Homo sapiens: one gene and its partners. The protein of the gene in region 2 purifies or fractionates together with the protein of the main gene of each other region. This does not show direct contact. Each region holds a gene or a part of one and is shown on either strand. Other genes may lie near its edges.

Region 1 (4,340 bases), on a different chromosome or scaffold from region 2:
AGGATGGAGACACATAACAAAATAATAAGAATTGATTCTATGATTAAAGAGATGGAGGAAGGCATGATATGTGAGCTGCAGGAAAAAATTCCTGTTATTTTCTTCCTATTGTGGTTATCAGAAAGATTCTTAAAATTATTACTTGGGTTTTTAAACTGATTGAAAAATTAAAACTCTAATGGAACTTTTAGTCCTATCCAAGCACAAATGTCTAGATAAAAAACAAAAATCTGCCAAAAAACAAAAATCAAATCAAACAAACAAAAAAAGAAAGGCTTTAACCATGATCCAGTTTCCAGATGCCAATATCCATAAATGGGTAGGAGATTATGAATTACTAATTCCCATCTCCCCACCAATAAAAAGCAAACCAGCTCAGCAGTGAAAATTCCCAGAAAAGCAAGGTTTCTTCTTAGTCCTGAAGCAGCCATCGCCTAAGTGCTGCTCCCTGCAGCCAGCAGCATTAATGGACGCTGCACTGCTGTCCTTCCCTGGAGACAGCAGCCAGCACTACTCAAGCTTCTCACGTAGCAACCAGAGCTCCAGAGCCAGCAGCTGCTGCTGCCTTGTATACTCACCCCTGTGATCCAACCCAAAGGAACAACCTTCTCTTTACCCCACCCCCACTCCTTACACACACTTTTTTTTTTTTTTTTTGGACCAGTGCTCCATGCCAGAAGGGCTGGAATTATGCTTTTAAGAAAGAAACAATCCTAAGGTCACCCTTTTAAACCAAGGCCTTTTATTAGAAAAATCAACATTTACCAAATTCTAAATATCCATTTTAATTAAGCCAGCAGTTTAGGAGTGAAGATTAAGCTTTGGTCTTTTGAAAGCCAATTTCCCAAGCACTCTACAATCTAATTTAAATTTGCAGCTAGAAACAGAGCCTTGTGTCATGTCCTACCAAAGGGCATAATTCATTTTTCTACACATAATGACAGTCTGAGTAAACCTTAAAGACTCTAATCCCATAACAGGCCAGAATTTTTGGCTACAGAAGAGAACTAATGATCCTGAGAAAACTGGAAGAAATCCAATAGAAAAAAAAAAGCCCTACGTCCTCTATGGAGCCCAGAAACCTCTGATTACGTGGGTATTCTCTGCTTTAGTCCTAGCTCAGATCCCACACATCTAAAATTACCACTTAGAACTTTCTGTGACCTAAAAACATTAATAATATAAAATTAACAACCAAAAAATAATTTCAAATAGGGAGTACACACTCTCCTAAAAAGCTCAGCACACTCCACTCAGCTGGATCCTCCCCAATCACAAGTATAGCTATGTAACATCTGTCCAACAAAGAAATGTAAATATGACCTTGGTCACAAATATGTCATCTAAAAACTTGTTTAGTCAACTGATGAAGGTAATTAGCACAGAACTTGGGGATTCGTTCAGTACCTATGTGCAGGAAGGAAACTGGAGAAATGAACTTAAATATAGACAAAGCCCAGTGGAACCCAGAGGTCTGGGAAAGAAATGAGTTACCGGTGAATACATTGCACAAGTAACATGAGAAAGCAGAAAATGCAGGTCATACACGCACCCCTGACCCAGACCAGCAGAGCTGACTGCAGCATCCATATCCAAGAGAAAGACCACTGACGCCCAAGAAGTGAGACAAGCAAGGACTCTATAGAATCAATTAGCATAGAAGGGGCTTTCCCAACAGTTTAACTTTCCCTCTCATGCGATTTACCTACTTGAACCAGGGCTCTTTCCTACACTCCTCTTCACATTCCCGACTTACACGCAGAGGGAAAGAGAATTCATAAAGGGAATATTTTTCTGCCTTTGAAGATATTCTCACAAGATCGTTCTCCACGCCCAAGGCAAGTAAAACGACACAATCTGGCTCAACTCCAGGCTCGAACCCTACACATTCAACGAGGCTATCTCAGACACGCTGTGGCACACGCCACGGGGAGCCAGAGAACGTGTGGTGGGGGTGGCGAAGGTAATGCCTTTGGGAAGCAGCCATCTGAGGTGGGAAGCCAGAAAACGAGAGGGAAGGCGTCCAGGAAGATTACGGAGGGGAGATCGCGGCCCCCAGAGCGATCAGAGTTGTCTGTCACAAGGCCGCGAGAACGGGGGTAGGGAGTGGGGGATCGGGGAGAGAAAAAAAGTATGCCTGTGTATTTCGAGCGGAGGGCAGCAAGAGGCCTCTCCTCAAGGGAAAGGTAAACGTGGAGTAGGCAGTTCCCAGGAAAGGGGGTGAAGAGGCGTTGGGGGAGGGGAAGCGTCCTGACCCAGGAAAAACATGAAAGGGGGAGTTGGGTCGCCTAGATTAGAGGGGGATCTCTCTCCCTGGGAAAATGGGGTGTTGCAACGGTGTGTGCAAGGCGGCGAGGGGGGTGAGAAGTGGCAGCATCCTCCTAAGAGCTTGGGGAGGGCCAGGCCCACGACCCAAGGAGAGCGAGCGCGGGGAGACGGAGGAGGTGACCCTTCCCTCCCCTGGGGCCCGATCGTGAGGTTCGGTCTCTTTTCTGTCGGACCCTTACCTTGTCCCAGGCGCTGCCGGGGCCTGGGCCCGGGCTGCGGCGCACGGCACTCCCGGGAGGCGGCAGGACTCGAGTTAGGCCCAACGCGGCGCCACGGCGTTTCCTGGCCGGGAATGGCCCGTACCCGTGAGGTGGGGGTGGGGGGCAGAAAGGCGGAGCGAGCCAAAGGCGGGGAGGGGGGGCAGGGCCAGGGAAAGAGGGGGGCCGGCACTACTGTGTTGGCGGACTGGCGGGACTGGGGCTGCGTGAGTCTCTGAGCGCAGGCGGGCGGCGGCCGCCCCTCCCCCGGCAGCGGCGGCGGCGGCGGCGGCGGCGGCGGCGGCGGCAGCTCACTCAGCCCGCTGCCCGAGCGGAAACGCCACTGACCGCACGGGGATTCCCAGCGCCGGCGCCAGGGGCACCCGGGACACGCCCCCTCCCGCCGCGCCATTGGCCTCTCCGCCCACCGCCCCGCACCCATTGGCCCACTCGCCGCCAATCAGCGGAAGCCGCCGGGGCCGCCTAGAGAAGAGGCTGTGCTTCGGCGCTCCGGCTCCTCAGAGAGCCTCGGCTAGGTAGGGGAGCGGAACTCTGGTGGGAGGGGAGGTGCGGTACACTGGGGGGATGGGTGGCTAGGGGGGCCGTCTGGTGGCTTGCGGGGGTTGCCTTTCCCGTGGGAAGTCGGGAACATAATGTTTGTTACGTTGGGAGGGAAAGGGGTGGCTGGATGCAGGCGGGAGGGAGGCCCGCCCTGCGGCAACCGGAGGGGGAGGGAGAAGGGAGCGGAAAATGCTCGAAACCGGACGGAGCCATTGCTCTCGCAGAGGGAGGAGCGCTTCCGGCTAGCCTCTTGTCGCCGATTGGCCGTTTCTCCTCCCGCCGTGTGTGAAAACACAAATGGCGTATTCTGGTTGGAGTAAAGCTCCTGTCAGTTACGCCGTCGGGAGTACGCAGCCGCTTAGCGACTCTCGCGTTGCCCCCTGGGTGGGGCGGGTAGGTAGGTGGGGTGTAGAGATGCTGGGTGTGCGGGCGCGGCCGGCCTCCTGCGGCGGGAGGGGAGGGTCAGTGAAATCGGCTCTGGCGCGGGCGTCCTCCCACCCTCCCCTTCCTTCGGGGGAGTCGGTTTACCCGCCGCCTGCTTGTCTTCGACACCTGATTGGCTGTCGAAGCTGTGGGACCGGGCCCTTGCTACTGGCTCGAGTCTCACATGAGCGAAACCACTGCGCGGGGCGCGGGGGTGGCGGGGAGGCGGGCGTTGGTACGGTCCTCCCCGAGGCCGAGCGCCGCAGTGTCTGGCCCCGCGCCCCTGCGCAACGTGGCAGGAAGCGCGCGCTGGAGGCGGGGGCGGGCTGCCGGCCGAGACTTCTGGATGGCGGCGGCCGCGGCTCCGCCCCGGGTTCCCACCGCCTGAAGGGCGAGACAAGCCCGACCTGCTACAGGCACTCGTGGGGGTGGGGGAGGAGCGGGGGTCGGTCCGGCTGGTTTGTGGGTGGGAGGCGCTTGTTCTCCAAAAACCGGCGCGAGCTGCAATCCTGAGGGAGCTGCGGTGGAGGAGGTGGAGAGAAGGCCGCACCCTTCTGGGCAGGGGGAGGGGAGTGCCGCAATACCTTTATGGGAGTTCTCTGCTGCCTCCCGTCTTGTAAGGACCGCCCTGGGCCTGGAAGAAGCCCTCCCTCCTTTCCTCCTCGCGTGATCTCGTCATCGCCTCCATGTCGAGTCGCTTCTCGATTATGGGCGGGATTCTTTTGCCTAGGCTTAAGGGGCTAACTTGGTCCCTGGGCGTTGCCCTGCAGGGGAGTGAGCAGCTGTAAGATTTGAGGGGCGACTCCGATTAGTTTATCTTCCCACGGACTA
Region 2 (4,246 bases):
TGTCGCCTAGGCTGGAGTGCAATGGCGCGATCTCGGCTCACTGCAACCTCCGCCTCTCGGGTTCAAACGATTCTCCTGCCTCAGTCTCCCGAGTAGCTAGGATCATGGGACTACAGGCGCCTGCCACCATTCCCGGCTAATTTTTGTATTTTTAGTACAGACGGGGTTTCACCATATTGGACAGGCTGGTCTCGAACTCCTGACCTTATGTTCCGCCCGCCTCAGCCTCCCAAAGTGCTGGGATTACAGGCGTGAGCCGCCCGGCCCGGAGTTTTCTATTCTTTTTTTTTGAGACGGAGTCTCGCTCTGTCGCCCAGGCTGGAGTGCAGTGGCGCCGTCTCGGCTCACTCCGAGCTCCGCCTCCCGGGTTCACGACATTCTCCTGCCTCAGCCTCCCGAGTGGCTGGGACTACAGGCGCCCCCCACCTCGCCCGGCCAATTTTTTGTATTTTTAGTAGAGACGGGGTTTCACCGTGTTAGCCAGGATGGTCTCGATCTCCTGACCTCCTGATCCGCCCGCCTCGGCCTCCCAAAGTGCTGGGATTACAGGCGTGAGCCGCCGCGCCCGGCCTGGAGTTTTCTTTTTTTTTTTAAGCATCACTTCATATTTCAAGAGCTCTCAGTTCTCCTGAGATTTCTAGGCTCTGTCCAGGATCCCTAAGCCTGTTCACAGTCCTACTTGAAGTTTCTAATCTTTCTTTTCTCATTAACCAAAACTGGAGAGAGGAAAAAGCCCATCATTTTCCCTGGACAGCAGCGCCTACTGGGAGTTTCACCCGCATTAACATGCAAACGACAGGCAAACTCCTAGTCATCCTTCCAAAGACCCTGCTCCACAGCCCTGCCGAGGCCGGTGCGCACCTAGCCCAGCCACTGCCCCTCACGGCCCCCGCGCCGCCCTCACTGAGCAGGGCGGGCAGCGCTGTAAGCGTAACCACTTGGGGCTTGGGGCTTCTGACCCGGGAGTCGGGTGCTGGGTTGAGTGCGAGGCCGACGCCTCTGCCGGGTGGGGAACCCGCCCGCCGGCGAGGAGCGGTCGCGGCCAGGGGCTTCCGCCGACTGGGAGGCCCGGGGCCGGGCCGGAGGGACTCGGAACCTGGAAACGACCAGGCGCGACCCCCAGAGGACTACAGGCGCGGCTTTTCTGGCCGCCGCCCGGTTCCCGCGGGCGACTCCACTCGGCATGCGCGGCGGGGAGCCTCGGCGGTGAGGCGCAAAGCCGCGGGCTCGTGGGACGGCCACCCCTCCGCAAAACCGCCAATGGGCGGGCCCGGGCCGCCGATCGCCCGCCGCGGCTTCCGGTTCCGATGACAGTGGCGCCGGAAGCCGGGGCCGGGGCTGCGGGGCGAGGTGAGAGCGGGCGGGCTTGGGAGCCGGCAGGTGCGGGCCGAGGGCGGGCACAGCGGCCGGCGGAGCTGAGGCGCGCGGCGGGGAAAGCTCGGCCGGCCTCCCGGGCCCCAGCCTTCTCCAGAACCCCTGCTACCCACGACTAAGCCCCGAACAATCTGCCCTTGGGCTTGTTCTCTTCGCAGTTGTCGGCCCTGGGCCGGGAGCTGGAGTCCCAGACTCATAGGTCCCGGCCCAGCCCCCGAAGAGCCGCCTCAGCCGGGGGGAGTTGCTCGGACTCAAACGTCCAGTCCTCGTGCGACCGCGCTGGGTCGGAAGTGAGCAGGTGCGCACCGGGCTCGGCAGGGCTATGGAGCAGGGTCTTTGGAAGGATGACTAGGAGTTTGCCTGTCGTTTGCATGTTAATGCGGGTGAAACTCCCAGTAGGCGCTGCTGTCCAGGGAAAATGATGGGCTTTTTCCTCCCTCCAGTTTTGGTTAATGAGAAAAGAAAGATTAGAAACTTCAAGTAGGACTGTATAGTAAAAAAAAAAAAAAAATGGAGGAGGGCGATATGACACGGTAACTGGTGTGAGGGTGGGGCGGAGGGGTCAGTATTAGATACTGTGGTCTAGCAGAGCATCTCTGAGGACGGGACATTTGCGTTGAGACCCAAATTAGGAGGCAGGCTTAGGAAGATACGGGAAGAGAGTGGTCCAGGCAGCGGGAACAGCCAGTGTGAAGGCCCTAGGGCAGAAATCAACTGAGAGTATAGTCAAGGAACAGAAAGCAAGCTAGTGTGGCTAAAGTATGGTAAGAAAGGGAAAGAGTGGTAGGAGATGAGGTCGGATAATTGGGGTTTGGTCACATAGAGTCTGTAGGTCAGAGAGAGGAATGTGGAGTTTTTTCTAAGTACAGTGGAAATCTTTTGGTTTTAAGCAGAGGAGTGACATGTAGGGTAGAGAGTGGATGGAGGTCGCGGCTGCAAAAGCATAAGAATTGGCTGGGCACGGTGGTTCACGCCCGTAATTCCAGCACTTTGGGAGGCTGAGACTGGCAGACGGCTTGAGCTCAGCACTTCAAGACCAACCTGGCCAACATGGTGAAACCCTGTCGCTCCAAAAAATTAGGCTGGGCGCAGTGGCTCACGCTTGTAACCCCAGCACTTTGGGAGGCCAAGGCGGGAGGATCACTTGAGGCCAGGAGTTCAAGACCAGCCTGGCCAACATGGTGAAACCCCGTCTCTACTAAAAATACAAAATTTAGCCGGGTGTGGTGGCAGGTGTCTGTAATTCCAGCTACTTGGGAGGCTGAGGCAGGAGAATCGCTTGAAACTGGGAAGCAAAGGTTGCAATGAGCCAAGATCGTGCCACTGTACTCCAGCCTGGGCGACAGAGTAAGACTCTGTCTCAAAAACAAACAACAAAAAAATTAGCCAGGTGTGGTGGGGAGAGAGGGGAAGAATAGGGACAAAAGGGAATACATAAATAAACACAAAGGAGAAAAGGCCCTGCATGGACCACTTACATGTGTCATGAACTCAGGAGTGTTCATGGTGGGACTACATGGTGCACCTGTAGTCCCAGCTTCTTGGGGTGGGGGGCTGAGGTGGGAGGATCACTTGAGCCCAGGAGGTCGAGGCTGCAGTGAGCCCTGATTGTACCACAGCACTCTGGCCTGGGAAACAGATTGAGACCCTGTCTCTCTCTTTTTTTTTTTTTTTTTAAGCAACCCTATTAACTGAAGAGACCCTGCCTCACAAAAAAAAAAAAAAAAAAAAAAAAGCGTTAAGAATTGGGTCAATGGAGGTTGTCTAATCTTTTTTTTTTGTTTTTGTTTGTTTGTTTGTTTTTTTGAGACAGTCTCACTCTGTCGCCCAGGCTGGAGTGCAGTGGCGCCATCTCAGCTCACTGCAACCTCTGCCTCCTGGGTTCAAGCAATTCTCCTGCCTCAGCCTCCCGAGTAGCTGGGATTACAGGCACGCACCACCACGCCCAGCTAATTTTTGTATTTTTAGTAGAGACAGGGTTTCGCCATGTTGGTCAGGCTGGTCTCAAACTCCTGACCTTGTGATCCGCCTGCCTCGGCCTCCCAAAGTGCTGGGATTACAGGCATGAGCCACCACGCCCAGCCGATGTTGTCTAATCTTTGTCAGGCAAAAGGGACCTTTATGATTTGCTCAAACTTCCTTTCTCCTTACACAGGAGCCCCTTGTTTCAGGATGCTAAATACTCCAGGATAAACCTCCATACATGCCTTTGTGGAGATTTTAATATTTCACTCATGTCTCTTTTCTACCCACTCCTACACATTTGAGCTCAGGTTCTCCAGCGCAGTTAGGAAATGGATGTGTCATTTAATCAGCAAATGTGTGTGTGTGTTTTTTTAAATTTGAGACGGAGTTTTTGCTCTTGTTGCCCAGGATGGAGTGCAATGGCGTGGTCTTGGCTCACTGCAACCTCCACCTCCTAGGTTCAAGCGATTGTCCTGCCTCAGCCTCCTGAGTAGCTGGGATTACAGGTGCCCGCCACCACGCCTCGGTAATTTTTGTATTTTTAGTAGAGACGAAGTTTCACCATGTTGGTCAGGCGGGTCTCAAACTCTTGACCTCAGGTGAGCCACCCACCTCAGCCTCCCAAAGTGCTGGGATTACAGGTGTGAGCCACTGCGCCGGCCAATCAACAATTTTTTTTTTTTTTGGAGACGGAGTCTCACGCTGTCTCCCAGGCTGGAGTGCAGTGGCACAATCTTGGCTCACTGCAAGCTCCACCTCCCGGGTTCACACCATTCTCCTGCCCCAGCCTCCCGAGTAGCTGGGACTACGGGTGCCCGCCACCACACCCGGCTAATTTTTTGTATTTTTTTAGTAGAGATGGGGTTTCACCGTGTTAGCCAGGATGGTCTTGATCTCCTGACCTCAT
Region 3 (3,642 bases), on a different chromosome or scaffold from region 2:
TCACTGTGTTAGCCAGGATGGTCTCAATCTCCTGACCTTGTGATCCGCCCGCCTCGGCCTCCCAAAGTGCTGGGATTACAGGTGTGCGCCACCACGCCGGCAATCTTTATTTTTTGTAGAGACTAGGTCACCATGTTGCCCAAGCTTGTTTGTACATTTTTGACATACGAATGATTGATAGTTTGTCATCCTTTAAGATTATTGATATTTTTGTTATTAAAAAAGTCCAAGACTGGGCCTGGTGGCTCACACCTGTAATCCTAGCATTTTGGGAGGCAGAGACAGGAGGATTGCTTGAGCCCGGGAGTTTGAGGCCAGCCTGGGCAACATAGTGAGACCCCATCTGTATAAAATGAAAATTGTGGTGGGTCGAGAAAGTTATTTTGACCTATGTTTAAAACCAGATTCTCAGCTTGGGCAACATGGTGAGACTTGTTCTCTACAAATAATAAAATTATCCAGGTGCAGTGCTGCAGGTCTAGAGGCTGAGGTGGGAGGAATGCTTGAGTATGGGAGGTCGAGGCTGCAGTGAGCTGTGATTGTGCCACTACACTCCAGCCTGGGTGACAGAGCAAGACCTGTCTCGAACAAAAACCAAAAAAGGTTATGGCTGAGTACGGTGGCTCACACCTCTAGTCCCAGCACTTTGGGAGGCCAAGGAAGGAGGATGCCTTCAAAACCAGCCTGGGCAACAGAGAGAGACCCCGTCTCTACGAAAAATTAAAAATTAGCCATGTATGTGCCACCAGCTTCTCAGGAGGCTGAGGCAGGAGGATGGCTTGAGCCTAGGACTTGGAGGCTGCAGTGAGCTTTGATGGTGCCACTGTACTCCAGACTGGGCAACGTAGCAAGACCCCATCTCAAAAGCAAACCAAACCAGATTTTCATATTTCCCCCTAAAGGACAGGTGTAATAACACTAAAAGGTGGAAAAAAACCCAGGCTAAACTTCTTTGCCTGCATACATATCTGTGACTTTTAGGTGTCATTCTGTTTCCTTTTCATCTTTGCCTGTTCCTTGTTCTGTAACCTCTTCATTGGACAACTAAAATAGCCTCTGAAACGAGAAAAATCTGCTCCATTACACTGCCATCAGAGTGGTCTTCCTTAGGAATAGCTCTGGATGTGCCATTTTCCTTTTTGGAAACCTTGGGTAACTCCCCACTGCTCAGTACAGGTCAAACACTTCAGTACAGTACAAATCCCCTTGGCCCCTAATATGGTCCCAGGCTATTATTTTTATTTTTTATTTTATTTTTTATTGAGATGGAATCTCACTCTGTCACTCAGGCTGGAATGCAGTGGTGCCATCTTGGTTTACTGCAACCTCCACCTCCTGGGTTCAAGCAATTCTCCTGCCTCAGCCTCCTGAGTAGCTGGGATTATAGGCATGTGCCACCAGGCCTGGCTAGTTTTTTTGTATTTTTAATAGAGGTGGGGGTTTCACCATGTTGGCCGGGCTGGTCTCGAACTCCTGACCTCAGGTGATCTGCCTGCCTTGGCCTCCCGAAGCGTTGGGATTACATGCATGAGCCACCGTGCCCGGCCTTATTTTTCTACACAGCCAAATGCACACAGACCATCTTACTGAACTGTCTTCACTTACATTTTTGCTCAGTGGTCTTCTTTTTGTAATGGCCTTTAGTCTTTTTAAGGCTCAGCTCTGTTAATACTTTCTTGAGGGAGCTTTGTTACCCATTTCCTTAATGAGAATTATTTTTTCTGTCTTCTGCTTCCATAGACTTACCATATCTTTCTTGTCTTATGCTTATTTGTTGACTGCTTCTTCCCGTAGAGTATGTGTTCTGTGAGAGAATACTTTTTCTTACTTAACCTGTTTAAGTGCTTGGGATTGAGGGGAAATAAGGATTTAAGAAACCATGAAAGAAGGTCTCTGTCCTTAGCAGTTTACTGTTTATAAATTTCTTCCACTGTGTTTATTACCAAGTCACTTTATCATTAAAGCATTTGATTATCTATTCCCTTTGAAGTCAGGCATGTGTCTTCCCTACTGGTAGATGACAATGGAAGATGAGGTTAGGGGAACTTTTGACTTAGTGGTAGGACTGGGATTAGGATCTAGGGTTTTATTTTTTATTTATTTTTGGGACAGAGCCTTGCTCTGTCACCCAGGCTGGAGTGCAGGGGTGCGAACTCGGCTCACTACAACTCCTGCGATTCTCCTGCCTCAGCCTCCCAAGTAGCTGGGATTACAGGTGCCCACCACAATGTCCGGCTAATTTTTGTATTTTTAGTGGAGACGGGGTTTCACTGTGTTGGCCAGGCTGGTCTCATCTTCTGACCTCATGATCCGCCTCAGCCTCCCAAAGTGCTGAGATTACAGGCATGAGCCTCTGTGCCCGGCCGGTTTTTTTTCTTAAAATCTGTACCTGTTTTGAACTTTCTCCACAAGCAGTGGCCTCTTCGTGTAAATATTTTTAGGGAGGTTGGCCTGTGTGTGACCATTATAGGATAAGAGAGGAGATGCTGTCCCCTCTGAGGTGTGGACTGCCACCTCAGTGCAGCTTGGCCGTGAGTCAGCATCTGCTTTTGGAATGCTTCAGAATGTGCTCTGGACCCGTGTCGGCGCCCACTGCTCTGTTCTGGAACCTTGGTCGCCATCCCCATCCAGCCAGATCACGTATTCCACACCTTCCTGTCAGGTGTTCCCAGGACTGTGGGGCTGGTTTGGTCCTTTTGCTGCTTTTCTCAGAGATGGCATTGTGTGTTTTCCGTCACCTCAAACTGCTGCCATGATCTGGCCCTTCGGACCTTCTTCCCTTTCCCCCTTACTCTAGCTAGTCCAGCCAGACCCACTCTTGGCATGGCAGGCTTTCCCCCAGCCAAGGATGTCCGCATTTGCTGTCTGCTCTGCCTGAATCTCTCCTGCTTGTTCACTGAGCCATGCCTAGCACGATGTCTGGTAGAATGAAGAAGAAACCCTGGGTCCTGCTGCCTCCAGTAGTTCCTATCCTGCTGCCTTTCCTCAGGCTGTATTTCTTCTTTGTTCCTTGAGTGTCTTTGAAGTATGGTTTCTGATGCTCACTCTGTTTGTGGTCACCTACCAGTTCACTACATAGCATTTGCTTTCATGTCATTTCTTTGTCAAATCTTGCTTTTATGAGGTTCTGTGATGGAGACAGATTGTCTTTGGGAATTTCACTGCTGAAGACCTGACCTTTTTTGCTAGTGGGCTCTGTGATGGTGCTGTTGGAACTACTTAAGGTCTCTAAATCTTAGACTTGTATTTCAGTATTTTAAAATCAATAAAAAGGGGTTGAGAGTATACTTTTATATGTGAGTGTGTATGCATGTCTGTATGCTTTCGTGTCCATTAAACCATTTCAGTCATTAAGCTGATTTGTCATGAAAGCATTCGATCTTTTCATCATATATATAAAATATATAAGTATAACCCATATATAATTATGACATACAAAATAGGAATAAAAAATGAGAAAAAGGAAACATTTAGAAACATAATTTCTTTAATGGTATAAAATCTTTTGATACTAAAATATTTTTTATTTGTGACTGAAGATTGAAAGACGTTTTATTTTTAAAAATCTTGTTTAATACTTGGTGAGTCTTGGATGACCTTGGTGGTGTTAGTTTTGGTGGTCATTCAAGACTGAAGGTTTTG

The links.
Region 1: the proteins of RMND5B (region 2) and SETD5 purify together in Homo sapiens (affinity purification with mass spectrometry; one large-scale study listed by BioGRID and IntAct). This does not show direct contact.
Region 3: the proteins of RMND5B (region 2) and UCK2 purify together in Homo sapiens (affinity purification with mass spectrometry, with the first as the bait; one large-scale study listed by BioGRID). This does not show direct contact.

What each region holds. Positions count from the first base shown.
Region 1 is NC_000003.12:9,396,145-9,400,484, reverse strand, and holds the start of SETD5 (histone-lysine N-methyltransferase SETD5), read right to left. Parts: upstream 2,871-4,340; 5' UTR 2,508-2,870; intron 1-2,507.
Region 2 is NC_000005.10:178,129,705-178,133,950, forward strand, and holds the start of RMND5B (E3 ubiquitin-protein transferase RMND5B), read left to right. Parts: upstream 1-1,309; 5' UTR 1,310-1,350; exon of another isoform or gene 1,351-1,532; 5' UTR 1,533-1,672; intron 1,673-4,246. UniProt on the Homo sapiens protein: Core component of the CTLH E3 ubiquitin-protein ligase complex that selectively accepts ubiquitin from UBE2H and mediates ubiquitination and subsequent proteasomal degradation of the transcription factor HBP1.
Region 3 is NC_000001.11:165,830,522-165,834,163, forward strand, and holds part of UCK2 (uridine-cytidine kinase 2), read left to right. Parts: intron 1-3,642. UniProt on the Homo sapiens protein: Phosphorylates uridine and cytidine to uridine monophosphate and cytidine monophosphate. Does not phosphorylate deoxyribonucleosides or purine ribonucleosides. Can use ATP or GTP as a phosphate donor.